Linked DNA regions of Homo sapiens. The protein of the gene in region 2 purifies or fractionates together with the protein of the main gene of each other region. This does not show direct contact. Each region holds a gene or a part of one and is shown on either strand. Other genes may lie near its edges.

Region 1 (2,881 bases), on a different chromosome or scaffold from region 2:
GAAAGATTAGGCAACACAAAACACAGTAAGACCTGTTCATAGCTTGTTGTCTAGAAAACCAGGTAGCAGGATATTCTAGATGCTTCCTGCTGCTTCTACGTGAGTAGGATTAGCACTGGGGACAAAATAAGGAGTTTAGAGTAAACCAGTATTTCAGTCAAGAGTTAGTTGGCACTTAGTTAATGGCACTGGAAATAGCTTGTGGAGAGAATAGAATACAATGGTATAGACTCCTAATGTTTGATAAAATACTATTTTCAGAGTGGTAGAGAGGTTTTATTTGCCTAAATAGCCGTTATTAAATGGAATAACAACCACATTAGACCAAATTAATTGCAAACACAGCGGCAACCTGGGGAGAAGTTGAAACTCCAGTTTTGTGGATTACAGTTTTGAGTTTTATGATTGACATTTTTAAGTCCCCTATTTAAGGGGTCAAGATTATAACAATGTGTGTCTTACTAAGTTTCTAGGTCATTGTGAGCACTTGATAAATATTTGCTGAATGTTGTTTTTTTGAATGAACATAAGATAGAAACAAAAACTTCTCATCCAGTTAACTAGAGTGAATGTAGGGAGAATTGTTTTGCTTGTAACATGGAGAGTTTATTTTCAAGTGAGGAAAGAGAAAAAAATTACTCAGACTTGTTCCTGGTGAAGTGCATTCTCTGTTTGTATACTTTTTGATGGAGAAATTGATCTATAGAACTGCTTAATTTTTTGAGGCATTTAGACAGCAATGAAAGGTAGTTCTCCACAGGACACCGAATCAAAAGGAGAGACCAGACTCTGGCCTCATACCCAGCCTATTTGAAACAAGCTATCTAGTTTCTCCTGCAGACACCTTGTCAACAACATGCAACAGTGTCAGGTGCCTTGCAGGAAAATAATCTGAGTCCCAAGCTAGCCTGTGCTCATCCACAATCACAATGAACATGTCAAGGAAGAATTTGCAGAGACTCAAGGGAAGCACAATGGGATAAGGTAATCACTTTCAGTGAAAAACTGTTTTCTTGAAAACAGGCTTGGACACAATTGAAAGCTGGCTTCCTGCAAACACACCAAGAGTCTGTAATCTAGCCTATCCATTATATGTCCTTTATTATTCATGATATCCTATTCTTCTACCTTGTTGCCTGGTAACTTTTTCTGAGGACTGAGTTTCTGCAGCGATGTGGTGCACTCTTCCTGTGATGAGGAAACATCTGGGCCCCCTTCTGCAGGCTTTGGAAGATGATGTGTCTTGTCAAGGGGTAAAGGGCAAATGGATTTAATTTCTGCTTAAAACTATCATAGACGTTCCAAATAGAATATGTAAAATTTCTCTGTATTAGAAAAAGAAACGTGATACCAATTGTATATTTTCTTTTCTTTATTTATTCTCTGTAAGTCTGTCAGATGATAAATTGTAAATAACAATGATTAAAGAGTCATGCTACTGATGGATCTCCCTTTCTGTATAAACAGTGCCAGTTCTGGGCTTTGTAACCTTTGCTCTTTATAGTCTTTCATTCCTGGGGAAGTGATGGGGCATGGGCCCAGAGCTGGGGTGTATGTGGTATGGACACCTGTTTGTGGGGCTTTCCAGCAAAGGATTATTTAAATAGACCTCTAACATATGAGTTGACTGTTTATTGGGAAGAAAGCATCTTGGTCTCTGACATATCCAAACATACGAGACACTGGGATTTTACGTCCTCACATTAATTAGTCCAGTTCTGGGGAATCCAGTCTAGAATTAACTGGTGATCCCTTATCGTTATGGTTACAGACTTGTCTTGTTTGATACACAGAAATCCTTTTTAAATCCAAATATAGTCTGTCTCAGACTACCTGCACATGCACAAACCAAAAAAAACTATGAAAACCAGAATTTAGACTCAGTCATTATACTAGAGATTAGAATGAAACGACCCCAAACAACCCATTTCTTACCTGGTCTCTGAGAATAAGTTTATACTTTTAGTTTTCTGAGAATATTTCTCAGAATATGTGAGTTTTCTGAGCACATTTTTCAGCATGGGGTATGGTAGATAAATCACAGGGCCAAGGTTTGGCAGGGATAGATGGGATCATTGTGTACCCTATTGTTCTTCTGATTTCCAGGAGAACAGAATGAGCCCATGCAAAACATAAACTTATGATGATTAAAAAAAACACACCTATCCATTCACTCATCAATAAAAACATATTATGATGGTTATCAAGCTGTGTCCTATGAGTGATAAAATATTTGTAAAATATAAAATTAAATGGCATCTATTTTGAACTCTATTCTAGTCTCTCTGAGCACCTCTAGCAGTTCAGCCCATCTTTCAAAAGTCATAACACCTTGAAAGCAGCAACTTTAGTGCAGAAAAAGGAAGAAGAGAGCAGTTTCATCACTTGGCTTGAATGAAAATCTTGGGGAAAGGAGAGACAGACGGTCTTGCTCTGAAGCTGTCTGGACTTCACTTAATTCAGTCTGTCTTAGGCTGGCGGTCATCCCGAGACTGCGGTAATGCTGAGCCTCCACAGCCCAGGCCCTCTCCCTTCTTTATAGAAATGATTTTTTTATGGGACAGCCACACAACCAGGTCTTCTTCTTATTCCTTATCACCTCTGAGCTCTAGAACATTTTAAAATGAGTCTTTGGGTCTAGACTCTCACAATTAGGCTTAATTTTACTCCATGACTTTCAGAAAATGTTGTTAAATTGTGGTCTCTTTAGAACAGTTGAAAGTGGGATAAGCGTAGGAGCTGAGTTCCACCCCCATGATAAAGAAATTTTATTGGCCGGGCGCGGTGGCTCATGCCGGTAATCCCAACACTTTGGGAGGCCGAGGCAGGCAGATCACTTGAGCTCAGGAGTTCAAGACCAGCCTGGCCAACACGATGAAAC
Region 2 (3,660 bases):
CACTTCCCTCCCACCCTGTAGGTAAAGTAATAACAACATAGTTTTGCACTCCCAGACACTGGCTATGCCGCTTCTAAGCAAGCATGGCTCAAATGCTGTTACTCCACTATATTCATAGTGTTTATCAGGAAGGACCTGAAAGTACCCTTGCAAAGAACCCTATTGAATCTACTGTCTATGTCTATTGCTAGACATAGAAATAGATTCAGAGAGGCTAAATAGCTTGTCCATGGTCACATAGTGACTAAGTAGAAGACCTGGGATTCTGACTCCAGGGATTAAGATTTTACAAATGAGAAGATTTGTCCTTCACTCAGATTCTCCCCCTTCCTTCTATTAAAATACCTTCCCGGTGGGCTCTCTTTAGGATTAGAACTAAGCCATGAAATGGGGACCAGCAGGAAGCCAGGCACATTTCAGGCCTATTCCAGGAGGTGATGATCTCTTGTGATAGGCACCAGAAGACTTAAACAATTTTACATTTCTTCATGATTGCATAGCGTTGAATTGTTAATCATGGCCATGTCTGTGTGCAGCTACTCTCAAATCTATTTATTTAGATAGAGACAGAATCTTCTATTACAGGTAAAAAGACAAGTAAGGACTGTAACCAAGGACAAAATTCAATAACTGAGCACATTAAGATAACATCACATCAAGTCAATTTATATAAACAATTTTTTTTTCTTTTTTTCTTTTTTTCGAGATGGAGTCTCACTCTGTTGCCCAGGCTGGAGTGCAATGGCGAAATCTTGGCTCACTGCAACCTCCCGGGTTCAAGCAATTTTTTGCCTCCGCCTCCCAAGTAGCTGGGATTACAGGCGTGCAGCACCACACCCAGCTGATTTTTGTATTTTTAGTAGAGATGGGGTTTCACCATGTTGCCCAGGCTGGTCTCGAACACCTGACCTCAGGATGCCTGGGCTCCCAAAGTGCTGGGATTAGAGATGTGAGCTACCATGCCTGACATTTTTTCTTTTTTAATATCACAAGAGGATGTATTTGTGGAAATAGCCTATTGACTTTTAAAACAGTAAATTAAAAAATTTACATACAAACCCATTTTAAGCATACAGTTTTAGTTTTGACAAATGTGTACACCTATGTAAATACAACCTCAAGCAAGCTAGAAAACACCTCCATCATTGTAAAATATGTTTTGCGTTTCAAGTTGTCCTAGATTTTCACCGTATGGTTATAAACTGAGATCATTTGGTCTTACCCTTATGTTCCAGAAGTCCCCAAGCACCAATACAGGTAAATGTGGCTGGGTAAGTGATTCTGGGAAATGTTTTCTCTTCATAACTTTCTAACAAGATGCTTTTTTGATCTGTTGTTGTTTCCTCAGCAACTGTTCCTAGAACATAGTCTACTGACGGCCAATACCACTAAAGGAATCTATGCTGGAGTCTGTATTTCTGTCTTGGTGCTTCTTGCTCTTTTGGGTGTCATCATTGCCAAAAGTAAGTCATTTCGAGATTGTTCCTAAGGGACAAGGGATGTACAGCAAAATTGCCTGGGTTCACTAGTTTCATAAGTCACATGATTTTGATTTCACACGACTTCCCTTTGTCTCCCCAAATCCTCATTTGTAAAAGTCACATGGTAATACCATCTACCTCAAGGGGGAAGGGAAATGAAGTTTAAATGCATTGGTACCTACAAAGCACTAAGAATGGGAGCTGGGTGTGGGGTCTTATGCCTGTAATCCTAGCTACTTGGGAGGCTGAGTGAGGCAGGAGGATTGCTTGAGCCCAGGAGTTCAAGACTAGCCTGAACAACATGGTGGGACCCCATTTCTTAAAAAAAAACAAAAACAAAACAAAAAAGCAAAACAAAACAAACAAACAAAAAAACCATTAAAAAAAGCACCAGCCAGGAGCAGTGGCTCATGTCTGTAATCCCAGCACTTTGGGAGGCTGAGGCAGGAGGATTGCTTGAGCCCAGGAGTTCAAAACCAGCCTGGGCAACATAGTGAGACATTGTCTCTAAAATAAAAGGAAAAGAACAAAAAGAAAAAGCACTGAGAATGGTTCCTGGCACATGACAAGTGCACAGCAATCTTAAACTGTAATTGTAGTTAGAAAGATCCTTTTGCCATAAATCTCTATAAATCTCATGGAAGTTACATTCTAGTGGAGTTTTCACTTAAAACCACTATTTTTTAAACTTGTTATTTTTCAATTATTATTCCCCTATGGAAAAAATTTAATTCTATAAGAATTTTTTTGAGACAGAGTTTCTCTCTTGTCTCACAGGCTGGAGTGCAATGGCACGATCGTGGCTCACTGCAACCTCCACCTCCTGAGTTCAAGCCATTCTCCTGCCTCAGCCTCCTGAGTAGCTGGGACTACAGGCGCCCGCCACCACGCCCGGCTAATTTTTTGTATTTTTTAGTAGAGATGGGGTTTCACCGTGTTAGTCAGGATGGTCTCGATCTCCTGACCTTGTGATCCGCCTGCCTTGGCCTCCCAAAGTGCTGGGATTACAGGCATGAGCCACCACGCCCGGCCGAATTTTTGTATTTTTAGTAGAGACGGGGTTTTGCCATGTTGGCTAGGCTGGTCTCAAACTCCTAACCTCAGGTGATCCACCTGCCTCGGCCTCCCAAAGTTCTAGGATTACAGGCATGAGCCACAATGCCAGGCCAAGAAAAACTAAATACAGGTGTTCCTCAGTACCCTTGGGGGATTGGTTCCAGAGCCCCTTGATTCCAAAATCTGCAGATGCTCAAGTCCCTTATAAAATGGTGTAGTATTTGCACATAGCCTACTCACTTCCTCCAGTATACTTTAAATCTTCCCTAGATTACTTAGAACACCTAATATACAACGTAAATGCCATGTAAATAGTTGTTATATTGTATTGTTTTTATCTGTATTATTATTGTTGTGTATTATTTTTATTTTTTTTTTAATTTTCAATTTGCGAGTGGTTGAAACTGAGGATGCCAAACCTGTGGACATCGAGGGCCAACTGTATCAAGAAATAGGAGTTTGTTGGGTAGTGTTGCGATCTGGAAGTCAACACACCATTGTGATATATAAGATTTATTTTCTCCACCCTACAAGATCTAATTTTTTTCCCTGTGGGGGTGATATTGTTAAAATTTTGCAACACTCATTTAGCAGAAGAGGCACATGAGACACTGGGAGGGGAAACTGATAGCAAGACACAGACTAAAAAAGTAAAACAAAAGTCTTCAAAAAGCAACCACCCCAGGCTTCATGTCTCCCTTCTGCTAACTGTGTGTGTGTGTGTTTGTCTCAGTATAACCTGCCTCCCATAAAAGAACCCTAGTTAGCTATTTTGCAAGATGTGGTATTTGAAGCCATGACTGATTTAGTTCATGGGTCTAGGCAGAGGAGAATCAGAAAATTAAGAGTATGTTTGGCAAATTTGAGGAAGTTTTTATATAATTATTTTGGAGCTTGCTTAGTCAAAGTTATTTAGAAATTGGGTAAAATACCTTGCAGGGAAGTTCAAACTTTCCCTCTGAAATTTTGATACTTGAGTACGCCAAAAAAAAAATAGATTATTAGGAGATTAACAGGAGAAAATGAATACATATTTATTATGTGTACAGAAGCCACACAAAATATGAGATGGAAGAAAGGGCCAGATGACTGGAGCTTAAATACCCTTTTCTTTCTTTTTTTT
Region 3 (3,660 bases), on a different chromosome or scaffold from region 2:
ATTAGGGAAATTATACATTGATTGATTGATTGATTGACTGATTGAGATAGGATTTCACTCTGTTGCCCAGGCTGGAGTGCGGTGGCAGGATCATAGCTCACTGTAGCCTCAACCACTTGGGCTCAAGCGATCCTCTCACCTCGGCCTTCCAAAGTGTTGGGATTACAGGCGTGAGCCACTGCGCTGGGTCCAAAATTCTAATAAAAATTCCCATATAACGCCGGGCGCAGTGACTCACACCTGTAATCCCAGCACTTCGAGAGGCCAAGGTGGGCAAATCACTTGAGGCCAGGAGTTTGACACCAGCCTGACCAACATGGCGAAACCCTGTTTCTACTAAAAATACAAACATTAGCTGGGTATAGTGGCGTGCCTGTAGTCCCAGCTACTTGGGAGGCTGAGGCAGGAGAATCGCTTGAACCCGGGAGGCAGAGGTTGCAGTGAGCTGAGATCACGCCATTGCACTTCAGCCTGGGTGACAGAGTGAGACCCTGTCTCAAAAAAAAAAAACAACAAAAAAAAAATTATCATATATCTTTGCAGTCATTTTGTGGTTTCCTATTTTGTAATTAAGTCATTGAGCCACATGGACTTCATTTTGTAGTAAGAGGAGAGTGAGGAAGACACATTATTATTTGACAGCCACCTTTTTGGTTGCCCCAACACTATTATTAAATAATCACGTTTTTATCAGTGACATGAATCACTATGATTATGTATGATACTTACATTATTAAGTAAGGTTTGTGTAATTTGGATTTTTTAGAATGTCTTTCAATATTAATAAAAATAATTCAGGAATCTTGTGGCTAGCATATAGGTGATTATGGTCTATTTTTTGCGTTTGTTTTTACTCATTCTGCCACTCTCTGCCTTTTAATTGCAGAGTTTAAACTATTTTCAATTAACATAGTTATTGACAAGAAAAGATTTGTTTCTGCTCTTCAGTTATTTGTTTTCTTTATGTCTTATATATATTTTGTTCCTCCCTTATCACCTTTTGAAAAAACTTTAGTTTATTTCTTGGCATGTACCATTTTCACTCACTTCTTTTCTTTTCTGCATATTTTAAAATATATTTTCTGTTTTTCTTAAATATATATTTTGTGTATATATATTTAATAAATATATATTTTGTATATATATATTTAATAAATATATATTTTGTATATATATTTAATAAATATATATTTTGTATATATATTTATTAAATATATATTTTGTATATATTTAATAAATATATATTTTGTATATATATTTATTAAATATATATTATATATATTTAATAAATATATATTATATATATATTTAATAAATATATATTTAAATATATACTTAGTATATATCTTAAAGATACATATCTTAAATATATATATAGATATATATATATTTTTTGAGACAGGGTCTGCTCTGTCACCCAGGCTGGAGTGCAGTGGTGCGATCTCAGCTCACTGCAGCCTATGGCTGCTGGGTTTAAGCGATTTTCCTGCCTCAGCCTCCTGAGTACAGGGAGTAGCCACCATGCCTGGATAATTTTTGATTTTTAGCAGAGACAGGGTTTTACCATGTTGGTCAGGCTGTCTCAAACTCCTGACCTCAAGTGATCCACCTGCCTCGGCCTCCCAAAGTGTTGGGATTACAGGTATGAGCCACGCACCTAGCCTAAAACTTATTTTCTTACTGGTTTCCTTGAAGATTACAATTACCTTCTTAAGTATCTAAACAGGTAGTTTTATAATACCGGCAGAATTTCATTGCAATCCAAATACTGTGCTCCTGTACCACTCCATCTCTCCAGCTTTCTATTGTTGCTGTCATAGATCACATCCTTGCACGTTGTGTGACCACTGACGTCGATCTTAAGGACATGTATGTGTATGGAGCAAGGTTGACTTGTGATGGTTGATTTTATGTGTCAACTTGGTTACCCAGATACTTGGCCAAATATTATCCTAGATGTTTCTGTGAAGGTGTGTTTGTTGTTGTTGTTTTGTTGTTGGTTTTAGATGGGATTAACATTTAAATCAGTGGGCTTTGAGTCAAGCAGATTACCCCCTTAATGTTGGCAGGTCCCATCTAATCAGTTGAAAGCCTCAATAGAAAAAAGACTGACCTCCACCAAGAAAGAGGGTGTTCTGCCAGCAGGCAGCCTTCAGACCTGAGCTGTGACTCTTCTCTGCTGGCCTATCCTGTACCTTTTGAATTTGCCAGCCTCCACAGTTATGTGAACCAATTCCTTAAGATAAATCTTTATCTCTCTAGAGCAGGGGCCCCTGACCCCCAGGCCATGGACCAGTACTGGTCCGTGGCCTGTTAGGAACCAGGCCACACAGCAGGAGGTGGGCTGTAGATGAGTGAGCATTACTGCCCGAGCTCTGCATGCCGTCAAATCAGCGGCAGCATTAGACTTCATAGGAGCGTGAACCCTATTGTGAACTCCACATTTGAGAGATCTAGGTTGCGCACTCCTTATGAGAATCTAATGCCTGATGATCTGTCACTGTCTCCCATCACCCCCAGATAGGACCATCTAGTTGCAGGAAAATAAACTCAGGGCTTCCACTGATTCTACGTTATAGTGAGTTGTATAATTATTTCATTATATGTTACCATATAATAGTGATAGAAATAAAGTGCACAATAAATGTAACATGCTTGAATCATCCTGAAACCATCCCCATGCCCCCAACTCCAGTCCGTGGAAAAATTGTCTTTCAGGAAACCAGTCCCTGGTGGCAAAAATGTTGGAGACCCCTGCTCTAGAGAGCCCTGACTAATACAGAATTTTTAAAGATTTGAAATTCTTTTAAACCATACTTGATCTCCAAGTAATGGAAATAATAAGATTATATTTCCACCTAACATAATACAGCTATCCTGTATACAACTGAAAACGCACTAACCCTTTCTCCAGAAGAGGATGCAAAGTTCTTGAGTGGTGTTTACTCCTTTCCTTGATACCCTGGAACATAAATACTATAAAGTGAACAATACTTAAATACTATGATATAAATTCAAAATATCTTGTGTTACATAACAAGGGGATAAGAGAAGGAAGAAAACACAGATATTCGCTTAACATATATTTACACATAAACACACACACATAACACAATAAGGAAGAAATACTTATAATGATTACAGTCCTTATTTCCATAGCTGGTCATGTCATTGTAGCTGGTATTTATAAGAAGCTTCTTTCGCTGTGCATTCTGTATTCCCTGTGCCCTCACTAAGCACCTCAGCTGGTCATGGCTCTGTGCCTGGTAGAGTGAACTAACCTTTATTCCTGAAGGGTCTGAGCTATAAGTGGTCCTGCTTTAATAGGGTCGTGGTAGTTTTCCATTGACTTTACTCACAGGGCATGGTAATACTAAGAGATGCCCTAAGGAATCTCCTGTATTCTAGACATCCTCTTCCTTACGTCCATTGTGGAATAACAGTCCAATTTTCCCTTCAATTTCCCCTTTGTGTTCAGAATCAGTCAATCCAGCCAGCAGGGTTTGTGTAACTGGTTTTCGCCTGTTGATTCAGAGGCATGAGGAACCCAAAGTGGCCAAGTGGCAGTCTTCAAGTTACACAGAATCACTGTTGTGTCTCCTCATGGAATCATTCCTCCCTCTGAAACTCAGAGCTCTAGCAAAGCATAAAGCAGCAAAA

Evidence for each region.
Region 1: the proteins of HAVCR1 (region 2) and DDR2 purify together in Homo sapiens (affinity purification with mass spectrometry, with the first as the bait; one large-scale study listed by BioGRID). This does not show direct contact.
Region 3: the proteins of HAVCR1 (region 2) and TNFRSF10B purify together in Homo sapiens (affinity purification with mass spectrometry, with the first as the bait; one large-scale study listed by BioGRID). This does not show direct contact.

What each region holds. Positions count from the first base shown.
Region 1 is NC_000001.11:162,785,132-162,788,012, forward strand, and holds the end of DDR2 (discoidin domain-containing receptor 2 precursor), read left to right. Parts: 3' UTR 1-2,274; downstream 2,275-2,881. UniProt on the Homo sapiens protein: Tyrosine kinase involved in the regulation of tissues remodeling. It functions as a cell surface receptor for fibrillar collagen and regulates cell differentiation, remodeling of the extracellular matrix, cell migration and cell proliferation.
Region 2 is NC_000005.10:157,035,050-157,038,709, reverse strand, and holds part of HAVCR1 (hepatitis A virus cellular receptor 1 isoform a precursor), read left to right. Parts: intron 1-1,348; coding exon 1,349-1,463; intron 1,464-3,660. UniProt on the Homo sapiens protein: Phosphatidylserine receptor that plays an important functional role in regulatory B-cells homeostasis including generation, expansion and suppressor functions.
Region 3 is NC_000008.11:23,037,915-23,041,574, reverse strand, and holds part of TNFRSF10B (tumor necrosis factor receptor superfamily member 10B isoform 1 precursor), read left to right. Parts: intron 1-3,660. UniProt on the Homo sapiens protein: Receptor for the cytotoxic ligand TNFSF10/TRAIL. The adapter molecule FADD recruits caspase-8 to the activated receptor.